Regions from separate parts of the Homo sapiens genome. Here region 2 is linked to region 1. The links come from fine-mapping of genetic effects on gene expression. Tissue or cell type: tibial nerve. Region 1 holds a variant in brackets; the other region holds the start of a gene. All regions are shown on one strand. Distances are from middle to middle.

Region 1 (8,100 bases):
TTTTAACGAGAGATGGGAGAAACTGTAGTATATTTGCATGCTAATGGGGCTGCTCCTTGGAGAAGAAGGAAAACATGTTGCAGGAAAGAGAACAGAGAACTGCTGGCTGGAGCAATGCCCTCCAGAAGGCAAGAGAGGACAGGATACCAGCACCAGTGGAGGCATCTATCTTAGCTGCAGGTGCAGACTGTTCATCTAGAGAAATGGGAGAGGAGACAGAGGATGTGGGCACGCAGGTAGGTGGCAAGACCGACCTTTCTAATTTTTGCTATTCTGATGGATGAAAGCGATGTGTTATTGCTGCCTGGGATGCATGATGACTGGAGCCACATCCTGAATAACACGGATCCAGCTCTAAAGAAGAATCCATGTTTCTCAACTCTCTGTGCCTCTTTCTCACCAAGAGTCTGCTTCTCACTGGGCATCTCTCTCTTTCTATCTCTGTGCCTCTGTCCTCTGAATTTTCTTTCTGTCCTCTCCCACCTGCCCCATCTTTCTGTCTCTGTGTATTTAGCCCTTTGTATCTCTCAGTCTTCCCCTCCCTTCATGTTTGCGTTGGGGCCCCTCCTCTGGGCCTGGGTGTGGGGCCTACTTTCTCATCCCAGCTAGCACTTCCAACCAGAAGTTCCAGTTCCTGCTTGACAAAGAATCCCATTTTGAAGCCAAGATAGGGAGGGGCCTCCTGGAACCGTCAGATGCCTCCATCTTAAGCTTTACTTATTTAACAGGAGCATTGTGGCCCTTGGTCCATGCCACACTCTCTTCGAAGCATTTTTGGGTATTAATCCAGTTAACCCTTCTCCATAAGGCAAGTGCTATTGATTGTGCCATTTTACAAATGGGGATGCTGAGGCACAGAGCAGTCACATCATCTGAACTCAGGCAGTCTAGCTCCAGAGTCTGAGGTCAGAACCACTAGGAACACCATCTCTTTTTCGGGTCCTTTCTTCTTCTTTCTCCAGCCCGGTTCTCTGTGGTGGAGGAAAGACCTGCACCTGTGACAGAAGCGCACTTGGATTTGGTCCAGTTTGTGTGTGACTTTCAGCCGTGGGCTTGTTCATCAAGTGAGGGGGTGGAAGGTGCCCAGCCCTCAGTGGGTCCATGACCTCACTTCAACCAGAGCTACCCAACCCGCGTTCGGCCAATCATAACCCCTAACATCAATTTGACCTGGCACTCACCCCTCAGCAAATAACAAGGCCAACCACCCTCACTCCAGGCTCCAGCTTTTCCCAAGTGAGAAAGGCTTCTCTGGAAGCATGGACCCAGGTCACAGGAGGGTACAAGTACCCCGATTTCCCACATAAGCTGGTTGCCGCACTTAACCTGGCATCCTACCTCCAGCCACACCACCTGAACACAATTCCACTCAAAAAGTGAACTCAGACCCCGCCCTGTGAGGTGGGAGAAGTCCAGGGTGGAGAAAGACAGTGACCTTTCTTTCACCTTGAGAGGTGGGGTATGACCCAGCTCACCCCCACCAAAACCTACTGCATCATAGACACTCAACCTCATGGCCAGTCCTCATCACCCATGTCAACCCACTACCCCAGCTCAACCACATCTTAACATTTCCCCATCCAAAACCTCAATCTTGGTTCCATCTTCAGCCCCAACCCAACAGTACCCCAACACCAACTTATCCCTAGATACCTCCCATCTTACAATCTAATCCTATCCCAAAACCAGCTCAACTACCACCTCCAACTCTATACCCATCCTCATCCAATTTTCATTCACCTCCCCAAACTCATTGCATTCCTAATGTTGTCATCAGGCCCATCCTTAACCATAGACTCTACTGATTTCCTATATTAAGCCATATTTTTCTTCTTAGCAAAATACTTTGAAATGGACCCAACATTGGACACTGAGGTGTCGCCAATGCAAAGTTAGATGGGTTATCTGATTTTATGAGGTCTCTGTACCCTTTCCTGTCTTTGAGCCACTTTATGACTCTAAATTGTAGGTATCTGAGAGCAATGCAAATAATTCTTGTCCATAAATGTTTACATGAATTTTGCCAGGTGGAAGTACAATGGATTTCCCTCCTCCTCCCAGTGTGGAATAGCCAGTTTTGCATCTATTTGTAAATTCATTTCAGCATTCCTCGTTGTCTCTGTGCATATGGCTCTTTGTAACATCTTACTGGCTCTGCCATTTATTAATGAGTCAAGATACAATCTTTGACACATGTTCATTTCATATATGTCAGAGAGTCATGGTAAGACCATGTTTTAAAAGTTACCCTTTGACACTAGATTTGATCTCCACATCCAAATCTGAACTCCATCAATAAGGACTGTACAAGTTTCCATGTGAGCCCTCGCCCCATCCATCTCTATTCTTTATCCTCATTGTGACACCTCCACTCTCTCACTCTTTCCAAACTTCATCTGGTCCACGTCCCTGGCTTTCTTCCAAATTCTGACCCCACCTCAGTCCTTAATCCCTAATCCTGTCCCCTCCACCCCCTAGGATTAACTCAGGGCTCCACCCAGTCATAGTTCCTGGAGACACCTACTCATTCTCAAAACACCACCCCTTCCTCCTTCCTCTCCCCCACCCCCAATCCACGTCTTCAAAGCTTTCCGGCTCCTGCTTTTTCCTCTCCACCTAGGTCCCCGTGGACTCCCTCACCCCCTCTGGCCCTGCTCCTAAAAGGCCATTTCTGGAAAATGTTGCTTTCTCAGGTCGCATCTCTGCCCCCATCCAAGTCCGAGGGAGCTGATTTTCTATCCACCCAGCTGATGATTTCCTTCTTGTGTCCGGTGGTTGGCGGGAGCAGGGAGGCAGGATGATGGGATAATTGTGGGTGTCCTTGTGTCTTTCAAAAGAAAAAGGGTTGAGATGAGACTGGGAATTGGAACCTGGATGTGTTGAGAGCTAAACCTGAGATGAGGTTGGAGATGGGACTGGGGTTGAGGAACAGGCTGGAGTACTTGGTATGGTTAGGGATGGATAGGGAGGTGGGAATCTGATAGAACACGGCCATCTGGGGGCTGACTGCCTATTAAGAATTATGCATGGGGTTGGAGAAGAGGTTAGAAAACTGGGTGCAGAATGGGTTGAAGTTAGGGATGGGCATGGAACTCAGCGGGGTAGGGGGAAGGAAATGGGCTTTCCCCTTACCCTTTTTTGGGTCCTGAGGCCTGAAAGTTCACAGTGGGTTCAACTCTGCCTTGGGCGGGGTCAGACCTAGGTCCCAGCACGTCCTGGAAGCTCCGCCCCAAGCAGAGGGCCAAGCCCAGGTCGGGGGTGCCTGGAGACATCCCGCTGAGCCACTGGGGGTGGAGAGGGGGAGGCCAGGGACCAGGAAATGCTGAGTGAGCTGGGGGAGGGAGTTCAGGGGTTAAAAGCCATGGTTCGGGGCTGAAGTTCTAGACAGCTGGCGGCTGACGCTCCTCGTGGGCCCCTCACTCAGGTAGGGTCTGCCTGGGGCGGGGGCGGGGAGCGGAGGAGGGCAGGGAGGGGAGAGAAGAGGGGATAGGAAGGATGGGGAAAGCAGAAGGGCAGCTGAGTCAGGGAGAGGGAGAGTGAAGCTAGAGTCTCAGATCTAGAGAGAAACCTGCAGAGACGGAGAGAGGCGAAGGGCGCGGACAGATAAGAACTTGGGCTAATACCAAGC[G/A]TGTGGACAGACCCAGAGGGGTAGAATGGAAGGCAGACTCTGGAGGAAAAGGGCGAGAGTGCACCGACCACCCAGCTCGCCAGAGGGCAGGGGAGGAGGGACGGCTTCCTGGGGTGAGGGGCTGCACGCCGGAGCCCCAGGAGGTTGCACACTGTTCCTCCCACCTCGCCACTGCACCCCCACCAAGGATGGAATTGGAGGCGGGGGGCAGATTCCAGGGTCAGGGCTGTCAAGAGTGAATGAGGCGAGGAGACATTCAGGAGCAGAGAGGTTTCAGACGCGGAGGTTCCGGGCACGCCCTCAACACCCCCTTCACCTTCTCCTCAGGCCCCGCCCGCCCTGCCCTCCCCTCCCGATCCCGGAGCCATGTGGCCCCTGGCCCTAGTGATCGCCTCCCTGACCTTGGCCTTGTCAGGAGGTAAGAATGCGCGGGGGTGGAGGCGCGGCGGCCATTCGGGACAATGGTAGGAGGGGTCAGGCCGGAGGGGGAGGGGGCGTGGGAGCCGCGAGCTCCGCCCCCCGCCCACTCGGGGCCGGGTCCAGTGGGGACAGCTCAGAGCTCTTCCTGCTTGTCCCTGGGTGACCTGGTTTCCCGGCTGAGGTTGGCCCTCCGACCCCAGACCCTTCACCTCCCAAAATACCCTCGCAGCAGCCCCTCCCGCGTTCAAGGCTTCCTGTCCTCTCTGGAAAGCTGAAAGACATGGGTTCGCGTCCTGACGCTGCCGCTTTGAGCCAGTAGCCTAGCAGCTGCTTTGTGCCTAAATTGTTTTCATCTGGAAAATGGGCTTAATCTATAAGTGCTTACCAGAGAAGGTCACTGTGAATATTGAAACGAGGTAATGCGTCGAGCCTTCAGTATGTCGCAGGTAGAAGGGACTTGAAAGTTAGCCACTTAGCCGTTATTACTTTATTAGTAGTATTCCTTTTTTTTTTTTTTTTTTTTTTTGAGATGGAACCTTGCTCTGTCTCCCAGGCTGGAAGGCAGTGGCACGATCTTGGCTTACTGAAACCTCCGCCTCCCGGGTTGAAGCGATTCTCCTGCCTCAGCCTCCCGAGTAGCTGGGATTACAGGCGCCCGCCACCACGCCCAACTAATTTTTGTATTTTCAGCAGAGACGGGGTTTCGCCATGTTGGTTAGGCTGGTCTCGAACTTCTAACTTCAAGTAGCCCGCGTCAGCCTCCCAAAGTGCCAGGATTACAGGCATGAGCCACCGAGCCCGGCCTCTAGTATTCTGTCTTCATACTCAGCCCCTTCCAGAACCTTCTAGATTGTTATTTTAATCCTTGGGTTGACCCCAAACCTATGTGACCTCACCCCAAATTGGTAGTCCTTAAGATCCTTATGGATCTTTCCCATCTTTCCCTGCCGTTGTAGGCAGGTTCTCTGGAAACCCCGTTCATGAATCATTTATTCATTCAACAAACAGCTATTAAACACCGGCCACTGTGCTGGGTGCTGTACAAGCAGAGACACAGTCCCTGCTCTCAGCACCTGGAGTCTAGCGGGGACAGACGCAGATGTTATTCAAACAATTATCCAAATAATTAGTTAATAATTATCTTGACATGAGGTGAAGACTTCAAGGAGCCAAGCCAGGGGCCTAGAGATGTAATGGCGGCTTCCCGACCAGAGGCCTTCCCAAAGGGCTTGACCCTTGAGCCAAGACCTGAAAAAGGAGGGATCTGTGGGTGCCTGGCACCTGGCACCATCCTTGGCCTGAAGGTGGGGTGGCTTTTCTCCTCTGGCGACACTCCCTGGATTCATGCCCGTGCCACTCCTGAGTGCCACACCCTAGGCTAGGAGACCCACACGCTACGCCTTGTGGAGTCCTCAACAACCTGGCGAGGTAGGTGCATTGTAATTACTCCAATTTCATGGCAGAGAAACCTAGGACTCAAAGACAGAAGGCTCCTGCTCCAATGACACCGGCGATGCCTGAGTCAGAATCCTAATCAAGGTTGTTTTCCCTGTCCATATCCTGGACTTGAGGCTCTGAAAACCATTTTTATAACTTTTGACCTAATCATTTGCTTAAAGTTAGCTTTTTTTCTTCTTTTTTCACTCAAACAAAAGCATGTTCAACTTTATATTACTGTCCTGAATAGAGAATAGAATTCTTTGTCATAAATAGAAGGTAAGGAAGGAAATAAATCCTGCACAATGAAAAGAAAATAATATGTTTATTGGGTTGGACCACCTGAAATTGCTGATACTTGACCCTTTTTGACCTTCCTAAAACAACTTTTGCAGATGGTTCAGTGTAATAAATGTTAGGTGGCCTGATGAGGCTTCTGTGTCCTCCTGGCTTTGAAAAGTGAGCTCAGTGAGGATTAGGGAGGTGTTAAAACCATATTAGCACCATCCTGAGACTTTATCCTTGACAAAATCAGGTTTAAAAGAGAACTGGATGCTGGTTCAGCGTCTGAGTGTGCGATTTAACGTTACTTAAATCTCATCTCTCTACCATCTAAAATGATCCTGTGCTCACCGACAACTTCTGTCCCTAACTGCAAACCACTGAGCTAATCCAACTGCTTGCCCTGTAGTTGGGGAAACTAGCTAGGGAGGCAGAGGGACCTCCTGTTGTAGCTAATAATTAATAATAACATTTCCCACTGACTGAGTGCTCTCCATGCCACCTGCTGTGCTGCACGGTTTGAAATGCAGGATCATCTTGAATTCTTCAACTGCGCAATGAGAGATGAACTATTACTTTTTCTACTTGACAGCTGGGGAAACTGAGGCTGGTGATTTGCATAAGGTCACACAGTCACAAAATGGCATGCATGTTCAGGATTGGATTCTCCCTGTCCCACGGACCCCTGCTGTGCTTTCAATGCCAGACACAGTGCCTGGCACACACAGCATTTATTTATTGAGCCCCCATTGTGTGCCAGGCGCTGTGTTAGGTCCTGGGAATATGGTACTGAATAAAGCAGTTAAGGTGCCTGTTGTCAATGGAGCTTACAGTCAAAGTGGAGAGATTTTTAAAAACGAATACATACAAATGTGAAGAGAAATGAATAGCAATCATTGTTCTGATGAAGACCAACTGGAAGAATGTAATGGGGGAGGAGTCGGGACCAGGAGAGTCAACATTAGACCAGGTGGTCAGGGAAGGCCTTTCTGAAGAGGAGACATTTGAGCTGACCTCTCAGAATTAAGAAGGACCCAGACATACAACCTCTAAATTCTGAGGGTCATCCAGTAGAATATTCCATATATGTATATATGAAATATCCTATATCTGTGCTGTCCAATTATCCACTAGCCCCTTCAGGCTATTGAACATTTGAAATATGGCTGGTGTGACTTAAGAACTGAATTTTTAATTTAGTTTTACTTCATTTTAATTAGTTTAAATTTAAATAGCCACATGTAGCTAGTGGCTACCATATTAAACAACATAGGTCTGGAGAAAGGACTGTGCAGAGAGAGGAAATAGCAAGTATAAAATGTCTAGTATGGGGGCATCCAAGATGATTTAAATTCTTCTTTTCTTTAAATGCCTGGTGTGTTTGAAGAACAGGCCCATGAGGCTGGACTAGAGGAAGTCAGAAGAAAGAGGTTGGAGATGGGGTCAAAGAGGCTGGCAAGGGCCAGACAGCACAGAGTCCTGCACACCTTGGGAAGGCTTTTTGGATTTTATTTTAAAGAAAGTTGAGCCTGGGAACAACATCTGACTTTCTTTGTTTGAAGAGTCCTCAGCCTACTTTGAGAAGACTGGATCGGAGGGATGTAAAAGTGGAAGGATTTAGGTTAATGTTGTAGTCATTTGGGCTACAGAAGATGGGGCATGGACCAAGATGGTGGCAGAAGTGTGGAGATAACTGGATATTTGGGAGATAAAACCAATAGGAACTGGTTGTGAGTGATGAAGGAAAGAAGAGAAGCAAAGATGACTCCCAGGTTTGGGGCTGAGCACTGAGGTGGGAAATACTGGAGCGAACAGTTTTGATTGAGAAGAATCAAGTTGGGAATACAAAGCTTAAGATGCCTGTAAGGCATCCAAATCAACAGTGTTTGAGTTTTGAGCTTAAAGAAGAGTTCAGGGCTGGAGATGATTAGCCTATAGCTGGTATTTAAAGCCATGGAGGCAACCAGTATATATGCAGTGAAAGGATAGAGAGATGGGTGGAAAGATGATTGGATGGATGCATGGATGGATATATGGATAGATGGATGGATGGATGGTTGGATTGGATGGATGGATGGATGGATGGATGGATGGATGGATGGATGGATGGATGAATAAATGGACCAGTGGATGGAGGGACAGATGAGTGGATGGATGGTTGGATGGATGGATGGATGGATGGATGGATAGATGGTTAGATGACTACCTAAATGGATGAATGGATAGATGGATGAGTAGACGGATGGACAAATCAATAGGATGAATGGGGGATGGATGATTGGATAGATTGATGGATAGATATTGCCTAGGTGGATGTGTAGGTCAGTCTCACT
Region 2 (8,100 bases), 39 kb after region 1:
GGTGGTGGTGCAAGCCTGTGGCCCCAGCTACTTGGAAGGCTGAGGCAGGAGAATCGCTTGATCCCGGGAGGCGGAGGTTGCAGTGAGCTGAGATCACGCCACTGCACTCCAGCCTGGGCGACAGAGCCAGACTCTGTCTCAAAACAAAATAATTAATAATAATAATAATAATAATAATAATAATAATGGAGGAGAGGCCCAGGATAAGGGAGGGAGAGAGACAGGGAGTAAAAGGGAGGACCGGGGAATGGAGGAGGGGGAGGGGCAGGGAGAGAGAGGGAGGAAGGGAACAGAGAAGGAAAGATGGGGCAGGGGTTACAGAGAGAGACAGCAAAACAGACGGAGAGGACTGGGAGCCCAGACAGGGAACCAGCTGTTTCTGGGGCTCTAAGTCTTTCCCATACCATCCTCCAGTTGGTGCTGTCCCAGACTGAGAGAGATTTGAGGATGGCGGTCTCTCCCCTCATTGGTCAGGGCCCCAGCCATTGTCCTTGAGAGAACTCTGTGCTTTTGATGGAGTCCTGCCCACCTTCCCTGGGATTGGTCATTTTTGATGGCACTCTCTCCCCTCATTGGTCAGAACCCCAGGCATTGTCCTTGAGAGAACCTCTATCCTTTATGGAGTCCCACCCTCCTCCCCTGGGATTGGTCATTGATAATAGTGTTCTCTCTCCTCATTGGTCAGGGCCCCAGCCATTGTCCTTGAGAGAATGCTCGACTCTTTATGTTGTCTTGACAGCCTCCCCTGAGATTGGTCATTAATGACTGTGCTCTCTCTCCTCATTGGTCAGGGCCCCAGCCATTGTCCTTGAGAGAACCTCTGTCCTTTATGGAGTTCCACCCTTCTTCCCTGGGATTGGCCCCTAGAGACAGTGGTTCTTCTCTTTTGGTTAGCCATTGCCATTGTCCTCCGGGAAAGTGATTATACTCTTTTGTCTAATGACCAGACTTGGAGCCCTCCCCAAGGCCCAGGACTGGGTTGAAGGGTTGGGGAGGAAAACAGAAATAAGATGTCTCCCTTGTTCAGACAGTACTTCTCTTCCCTTCCAGGGTGATTCTGGGGGCCCCCTGGTGTGTGGGGGAGTCCTTCAAGGTCTGGTGTCCTGGGGGTCTGTGGGGCCCTGTGGACAAGATGGCATCCCTGGAGTCTACACCTATATTTGCAAGTATGTGGACTGGATCCGGATGATCATGAGGAACAACTGACCTGTTTCCTCCACCTCCACCCCCACCCCTTAACTTGGGTACCCCTCTGGCCCTCAGAGCACCAATATCTCCTCCATCACTTCCCCTAGCTCCACTCTTGTTGGCCTGGGAACTTCTTGGAACTTTAACTCCTGCCAGCCCTTCTAAGACCCACGAGCGGGGTGAGAGAAGTGTGCAATAGTCTGGAATAAATATAAATGAAGGAGGGGCCATGTCTGTCCATTTGAAGTCCTCATGCTGGTTGAGACTGGAAGAAGGACTCAGCAGTTTCCCTATCTCATAGGAGTAGAAACAGAGCTCAAATAAGGCCAGGCACAGTGGCTCACACCTGTAATCCCATCACTTTGGGAAGCTGAGGCAGGTGGATCACCTGAGGTCAGGAACTCGGGACCAGCCTGGTCAACATAGTGAAACCCCAACTCTACTAAAAATGCAAAAATTAGCCAGGCATGGTGGCGCATGCCTGTAATCCCAGCTACTCAGGAGGCTGAGACAGGAGAATAGCATGAACCCGTGAGGCAGAGGCTGCAGCGAGCCGAGATTGAACCATTACACTCCAGCCTGGGCGACAGAGCGAGACTCCATCTCAAAAACAAACAAACAAAAAACCCAGTGCTCAAATAGGATGAGGGTCTTCCCTGAGTAGTTACTCAGAAATGGAGTAGAAAAAGTTACTTTTAATAATATAGGCCGGGTGCAGTGGCCCACGCCTGTAATCCCAGCACTTTGGGAGGCCGAGGTGGGAGGATGGCTTGAGCTCAGATTTCGAGATCAGCCTGGCAACACAGTGAAATCTTGTCACTACAAAAACACAAAAAATTAGCTGGGTGTGGTGGTGCGTGCCTGTAGTCCCAGCTACTTGGGAAGCTGAGGTGGGAGGATCACCCGAGCCGGGGAGGTGGAGGCTGCAAAGAGCCGAGATCATGCCACTGCACTCCAGCCTGGGCAATAAAGTGAGACCTTGTCTCAAAAACAAAAACCCAGCAATATAAATAAGACACATGTTTCTTCATCTGGCATAATAGAAATAGTGCCCAGAGCTTATAAGCTTTTCAAGAGTCCACAAAAGACCCGAAAAAGAAAAAGAAAATTGTTAGCTCCAAAATACCAGATGAAAGCTGCAAAGTCAACATTTATGACCATTTAATCCAATGTCCATAAAACGTAGCATTCTTTCCACTAGCCAACTGCAGTTTACTTTCTTGTAATGAAGCATACATTGTATCTTTAATGTGGGACGTGGCTTTGTTCTAATAAGACGAAGGGTGGAGTGCAGGCTTGGAAAGCAGGAGAGCTCAGCCTACGTCTTTAATCCTCCTGCCCACCCCTTGGATTCTGTCTCCACTGGGACTCAAGAGGTGAGGAGAGACCATCTCCCCAAATGCACTGAAGGGAAACTGGAGGAGGGAGGGAGTGAGGGGTGATCATACCAGCGGAGGCACATTTGCTGAGCCCCCCCGCAGTCTGCTCTTTCCAAGTGGACCCTCCTGGAAGCCTGATCCCAACCTCCCCTGCAAGCAGGTCTGTCACCCCCATCTCTCAGATGAAGAAACTGAGCCTTGCAGGGGTGGAGTCCCTTGTCCCCACGTCATAAGGGTAGTCATAGTAGTAGGAAGAGGAAGCACCTAGGTTTGAGGCCAGGGCTGGCTGCTGTCAGAACCTAGGCCCTCCCCTGCCTTGCTCCACACCTGGTCAGGGGAGAGAGGGGAGGAAAGCCAAGGGAAGGGACCTAACTGAAAACAAACAAGCTGGGAGAAGCAGGAATCTGCGCTCGGGTTCCGCAGATGCAGAGGTTGAGGTGGCTGCGGGACTGGAAGTCATCGGGCAGAGGTCTCACAGCAGCCAGTAAGTGAACAGCTGGACTCGGGCTGCCTGGGCGGCAGGGAGAAGCGGGCAGGGGAAGGGTCAGCAGAGGAGCGAGGCCCCAGAGGAGCCCTGGGGTGGAGCACAGCCAAGGGCTCTGTTCCCTTTCCTGGACTCGGCTTCCACAGGCCCTGACCTGCCTCCCCCACCCTCCGGTCCTGCCCCTGTGCCTGGCAGCAGCCCCACCTGTGTGACATCCCAGCACACCCCCCCTCTCCTTGCAAAGGAGAAGGGAGCGGCCTAGGGGAGGCCAGGGGCCCACCTGGGCTGGGGCTGTGGAGAGGGAGTGGCTGGGACGGGAGGAAAAAGAGAGACGGAGATTAGATGGAAGAAGAGGGATTTCAAGACAAATTGCCAGAGATGCAGTCAGAGAGACTGACTGAGAGACACAAAGATAGAAGGAATTAGAGAAAGGGCCACACAGAGCCAGACAGAGAGAGAAGAGTGGAGATGGAGACAGGGACGAGGACAGAGAAAGGCAGACAGACACATAGGGACAGAAAGAGAAAAATCACACAAAGTCAGAATTACTGAATGACAGGGAATGACACATAGAACGAGACACAGATTCAGAGACTCAGGGCAGGGAAAGGAAGGCTGCAGACAGACAGACAGACAGAGGGAGGCTGAGACACAGGGAGAAGAGGGGCTTGGAGAGGTGGCACAGGCAGGCAGCCAGTGCCTCAGAGGCCTCCGGGGAGGGCCCTCACACACACCCCGCCCCGGGGCATTAAGGCAGGGCTTGGAGGCCAGTCATCCTGGGCCCGCCCAGGGCCGCCCCCCTGCCAGCCCGCCTGCCTGGTGCCTGGCACCTGGCGCTCCAACCCAGCCTACCTGCTGTAGCTGCCGCCACTGCCGTCTCCGCCGCCACTGGGCCCCCAGAGCCCCAGCCCCAGAGCCTGTGAGTCCAGGAGGAAAGGGAAGCTGCCCCTCCCCGTCCAGGTGTCAGCCCTCCCCAAGGACACCTGTCCCACTCGGGCACCCATTTCTCCCTCTGCTCTGTCCTTCTCTGCTTGGGTGGGGGTTCCTGGCCTCTCTCTACACCTCTCACCTCCGATGGCTGTCCGCAGCCTCAGTTACCTCTAATCTCCATGGCTTCAGCTGCTGAGCTGGCCCTCTGCTCCCACCCCCGCTGGCCAGGGCAGCGGAGGGCACTGGCCCTCCCCTCGACCAGCCCCGCCCAGCTTTGCTTGGCTGTCCTTCAAAAGGGCAGGGGTTTGGCGGACAGGGCTTCAGCAAGCCGGGTGATGGGGGTCCCAGACATTGTCTGGGGCTGAGCCCCCTACTCCCCTCCAGCAGACCTCAAAGGCTCCATATCGCTCTGCTGCGAAGACAATGAAAAAGGGGTGGCTACGGAACGGTGTCTGGTTCCCCTTGTCCTTCCACCCCAAGCTGCTGGGGCCTGGCCAGCTCTCAAGGCAAGAAGGAAAACATCCTCTGACATGTGCCGGGGAGGTCCCATGGCTGACTTGAACAGGGCCGAACCATGGCTTGACAGCTCAAAGCCCCTCCCAACGACTTCCACATGGTTCTTGGTATCTCGGAAGCTTCTAGCTGTGACCAGGCCCTCTCCAAGGCCACCCTAGACACCTAAGATATATTTTAAGTGTTTGGAGATCTGAGTGCTGTGAGAAACAGGGGATTTCCCCAACCTTGTTTCTCCCAAGTGGGGAGCGGGAGCAGGTGAGGGAGAGAGGAGAGGGCATGAGCCAGCCCCCCCCTCCCGATTTCCCCGTAAAGTGATGCGGCCCCATGTCCCTCCTTGTTCCCAGAGGAACCTGGGGCCCGCTCCTCCCCCCTCCAGGCCATGAGGATTCTGCAGTTAATCCTGCTTGCTCTGGCAACAGGTACGCAGGGGATGGGGGCAGGGCAGGATCCTCCCTCTTGAATCTCTGGGATCCCCTAACCCTCTGTGTCTGGACAGTGACAGGGCTGATTCCAAATTACAGAACAACCCATAAGGCACCTGAACTGGAGCAGTGGTCATGAGGGCCTGGATGCCCTTCTAGATAATCCCTTTAAATGCCAAAGGAGGAGAGGTCAAGGGGGTCGTAAAGGGTCCCGTGGAGGGGCTGAGGAAGCTGGAGTTGGGGGAGCAGTCACTCAAAGCGCCCAGGACAGGGGCTACTGACCAACCAGTATGGAAGTATTTCCTTTTTTTTTTTTCCCAGAGACAAAGTCTTGCTCTATTGTCCAGGCTGGAGTGCCGTGGTGCCAACACGGCTCACTGCAGTCTTGACTTCCCGGGCTTAAGTGATCCTTAAGCCATCTCAGCTTCCCCGGTAGCTGGGACCACAGGCACCTGCCACCAAGCCAGGCTAATTGTTTAATTGTTTGTAGAGATGGGGGAGGAGGTCTCACTATGTTTGCCTAGGCTGATCTAGAACTCCTGGGCTCAAGTAATCCTCCCACCTTAGCCTCTCAAAGTGCTGGGATTACAGGCATGAGCCACTGCATTTGACCTTATGGAAGTATTTTCATCCTTTAATACCCGACCCCAGCATCCAGGGCAACCCAGAGGGACACCAGACCAGGGCCCAGACCACCCACTCTCTTTCTCTCCTCCCCACCCCCATTTCTGGGAGTCCTCCTGGTCTACCACCTCTCCTTCCTGAGCCCCTTCTTTTGCTCTCACCCCCTCCAGGGCTTGTAGGGGGAGAGACCAGGATCATCAAGGGGTTCGAGTGCAAGCCTCACTCCCAGCCCTGGCAGGCAGCCCTGTTCGAGAAGACGCGGCTACTCTGTGGGGCGACGCTCATCGCCCCCAGATGGCTCCTGACAGCAGCCCACTGCCTCAAGCCGTGGGTGCGGGGGCTGGGGCGGTGCCGGGGTGGGGGGCTGGGAATGGGGAGATGGATGGAGAGAAGCTCAGGGATAGGGGTGCTGGTAAGGGGATTAGAGATGGGGATGGGTAGTGTCAGCAAGGTTGATGGGCTCGAGTTGGTATTGAAGGTGGGGGGATGAATGGGGTTGGGATGGGGCTATGGCTGGGAAGGGGGCTTCGGTGGGAGACGTGGAAGAGGTTGGAAGCAGAGCGATGTTTCTTCATCCTCAAAGGTGTCACTCACCTCTCCCACCCATGTCTCCCCCGACCTTTCCTCCTCCAACTACTGTCTCTCCCACCTCAGCCGCTACATAGTTCACCTGGGGCAGCACAACCTCCAGAAGGAGGAGGGCTGTGAGCAGACCCGGACAGCCACTGAGTCCTTCCCCCACCCCGGCTTCAACAACAGCCTCCCCAACAAAGACCACCGCAATGACATCATGCTGGTGAAGATGGCATCGCCAGTCTCCATCACCTGGGCTGTGCGACCCCTCACCCTCTCCTCACGCTGTGTCACTGCTGGCACCAGCTGCCTCATTTCCGGCTGGGGCAGCACGTCCAGCCCCCAGTGTAGGAGCACCAGAGGGGAACCTGGCAGGGGGTGGTGAGGAGGGAGTGGTCAGGATTGTGGAAGGGTTCAGGGCATCAGAGATGCGGTTCACAGTGACGATGTGGGATAAGTTGAGAGGATGTGTGGAAAACGTCAGGATAGGGGGGTGGGGACAAAAGTTGGGGCCTTGGAGTCAGACGGACGGGATATGCAATCATACATCCATAACCTCCTGGTTGTAAGACCTTAGGCAAGCAGCTTCACCTCTCTGAATCTTGATTTTCTTCTCTATAAAATGAGAATGATTATACCCACCTGTCAGGATTGGATTAGAGATAATGTATATCAAGCAACTGACATAAATCATTTATTGGATAGCAGGCTGGGCACCGTGGCTCACGCCTGTAATCCCAGCACTTTGGGAGGCCGAGGTGGGAAGATCACCTGAGGTCAGGACTTTGATACCAGCCTGGCCAACGTGGTGAAATCCCATCTCTACTAAAAATGTGAAAATTAGTTGGGCGTGGTTGTGTGCGCCTGTAATCCCAGCTACTCGGGAGGTTGAGGCAGGAGAATCGCTTAAACTTGGGAGACGGAGGTTGCAGTGAGCCAAGATCACGCCACTGCACTCCAGCCTGGGCAACAGAGCAAGACTCTGTCTCGAAAAAAAAAAAAAAAAAGCTGGATAGCATTGCTGTTGCTATTGTTACAAGAAGAGAGGTGAGTTGGCTGCGTCTAAGGACAGGGATTCCCCCAGGGGCGGGATCACAGCAAGCACTGCATTAGGGGAGGTGGCAGGGGGCTCATTCCCACAGCCCCTCACGCTGTTTCCACAGTACGCCTGCCTCACACCTTGCGATGCGCCAACATCACCATCATTGAGCACCAGAAGTGTGAGAACGCCTACCCCGGCAACATCACAGACACCATGGTGTGTGCCAGCGTGCAGGAAGGGGGCAAGGACTCCTGCCAGGTCAGTGTGGTCTCCAACCACAGCCCCATCCCCATCCCCAGCTTCAATGACATCTTTACCGACATCCACAATTTCATCCCCAACCTCAACCCGCCGACCCCTGCAACTCCCAATCCATCTCTTCCCCTGTTCCCGTTTCTGACCTCAGCACAAACTTCAGCTCCATCCCCGTTTCCACACCATTTCCAGCTCCAACCATCCCCAAACTCGTTTTTGAGCCTAACCCCATCCTTTATCCCACCCATAATCCCAGCTTTATCGCTAAACCTATCACCTTTCCCAGTGCCTACCCATCCTGTCTCGGCCCCACTCCTAAGCACCGTCCCCACCTCCTCCCTGGCTAACACCATGCTCAACGCTTTCTCTGACCGACATTCTCTCTCCCCGTGCCCAGGGTGACTCCGGGGGCCCTCTGGTCTGTAACCAGTCTCTTCAAGGCATTATCTCCTGGGGCCAGGATCCGTGTGCGATCACCCGAAAGCCTGGTGTCTACACGAAAGTCTGCAAATATGTGGACTGGATCCAGGAGACGATGAAGAACAATTAGACTGGACCCACCCACCACAGCCCATCACCCTCCATTTCCACTTGGTGTTTGGTTCCTGTTCACTCTGTTAATAAGAAACCCTAAGCCAAGACCCTCTACGAACATTCTTTGGGCCTCCTGGACTACAGGAGATGCTG

The links. PIP is the estimated chance that this variant, and not a neighbour inherited with it, causes the effect.
Region 2: KLK11 starts here. The variant in region 1 is fine-mapped to the expression of KLK11 in tibial nerve (GTEx, PIP above 0.99).

What each region holds. Positions count from the first base shown.
Region 1 is chr19:51,060,962-51,069,061 of GRCh38, reverse strand. KLK13 (kallikrein related peptidase 13) reads left to right here and starts at 3,970. Exons shown (of 5, transcript NM_015596.3): 1 at 3,970-4,046. The coding sequence starts at 3,995. The variant G/A (reference allele first, on the strand shown) is at 3,629.
Region 2 is chr19:51,022,408-51,030,507 of GRCh38, reverse strand. It overlaps KLK11 (kallikrein related peptidase 11), which reads left to right and starts at 3,892. Exons shown (of 6, transcript NM_001136032.3): 1 at 3,892-3,970; 2 at 4,842-4,916; 3 at 5,714-5,870; 4 at 6,198-6,463; 5 at 7,280-7,416; 6 at 7,811-8,100. The coding sequence starts at 4,877. The coding sequence ends at 7,963. KLK12 (kallikrein related peptidase 12) reads left to right here. Exons shown (of 6, transcript NM_001370125.1): 6 at 1,051-1,414. The coding sequence ends at 1,206. RefSeq lists a silencer at 317-548 and enhancers at 2,581-3,137, 3,697-4,254, 4,255-4,813.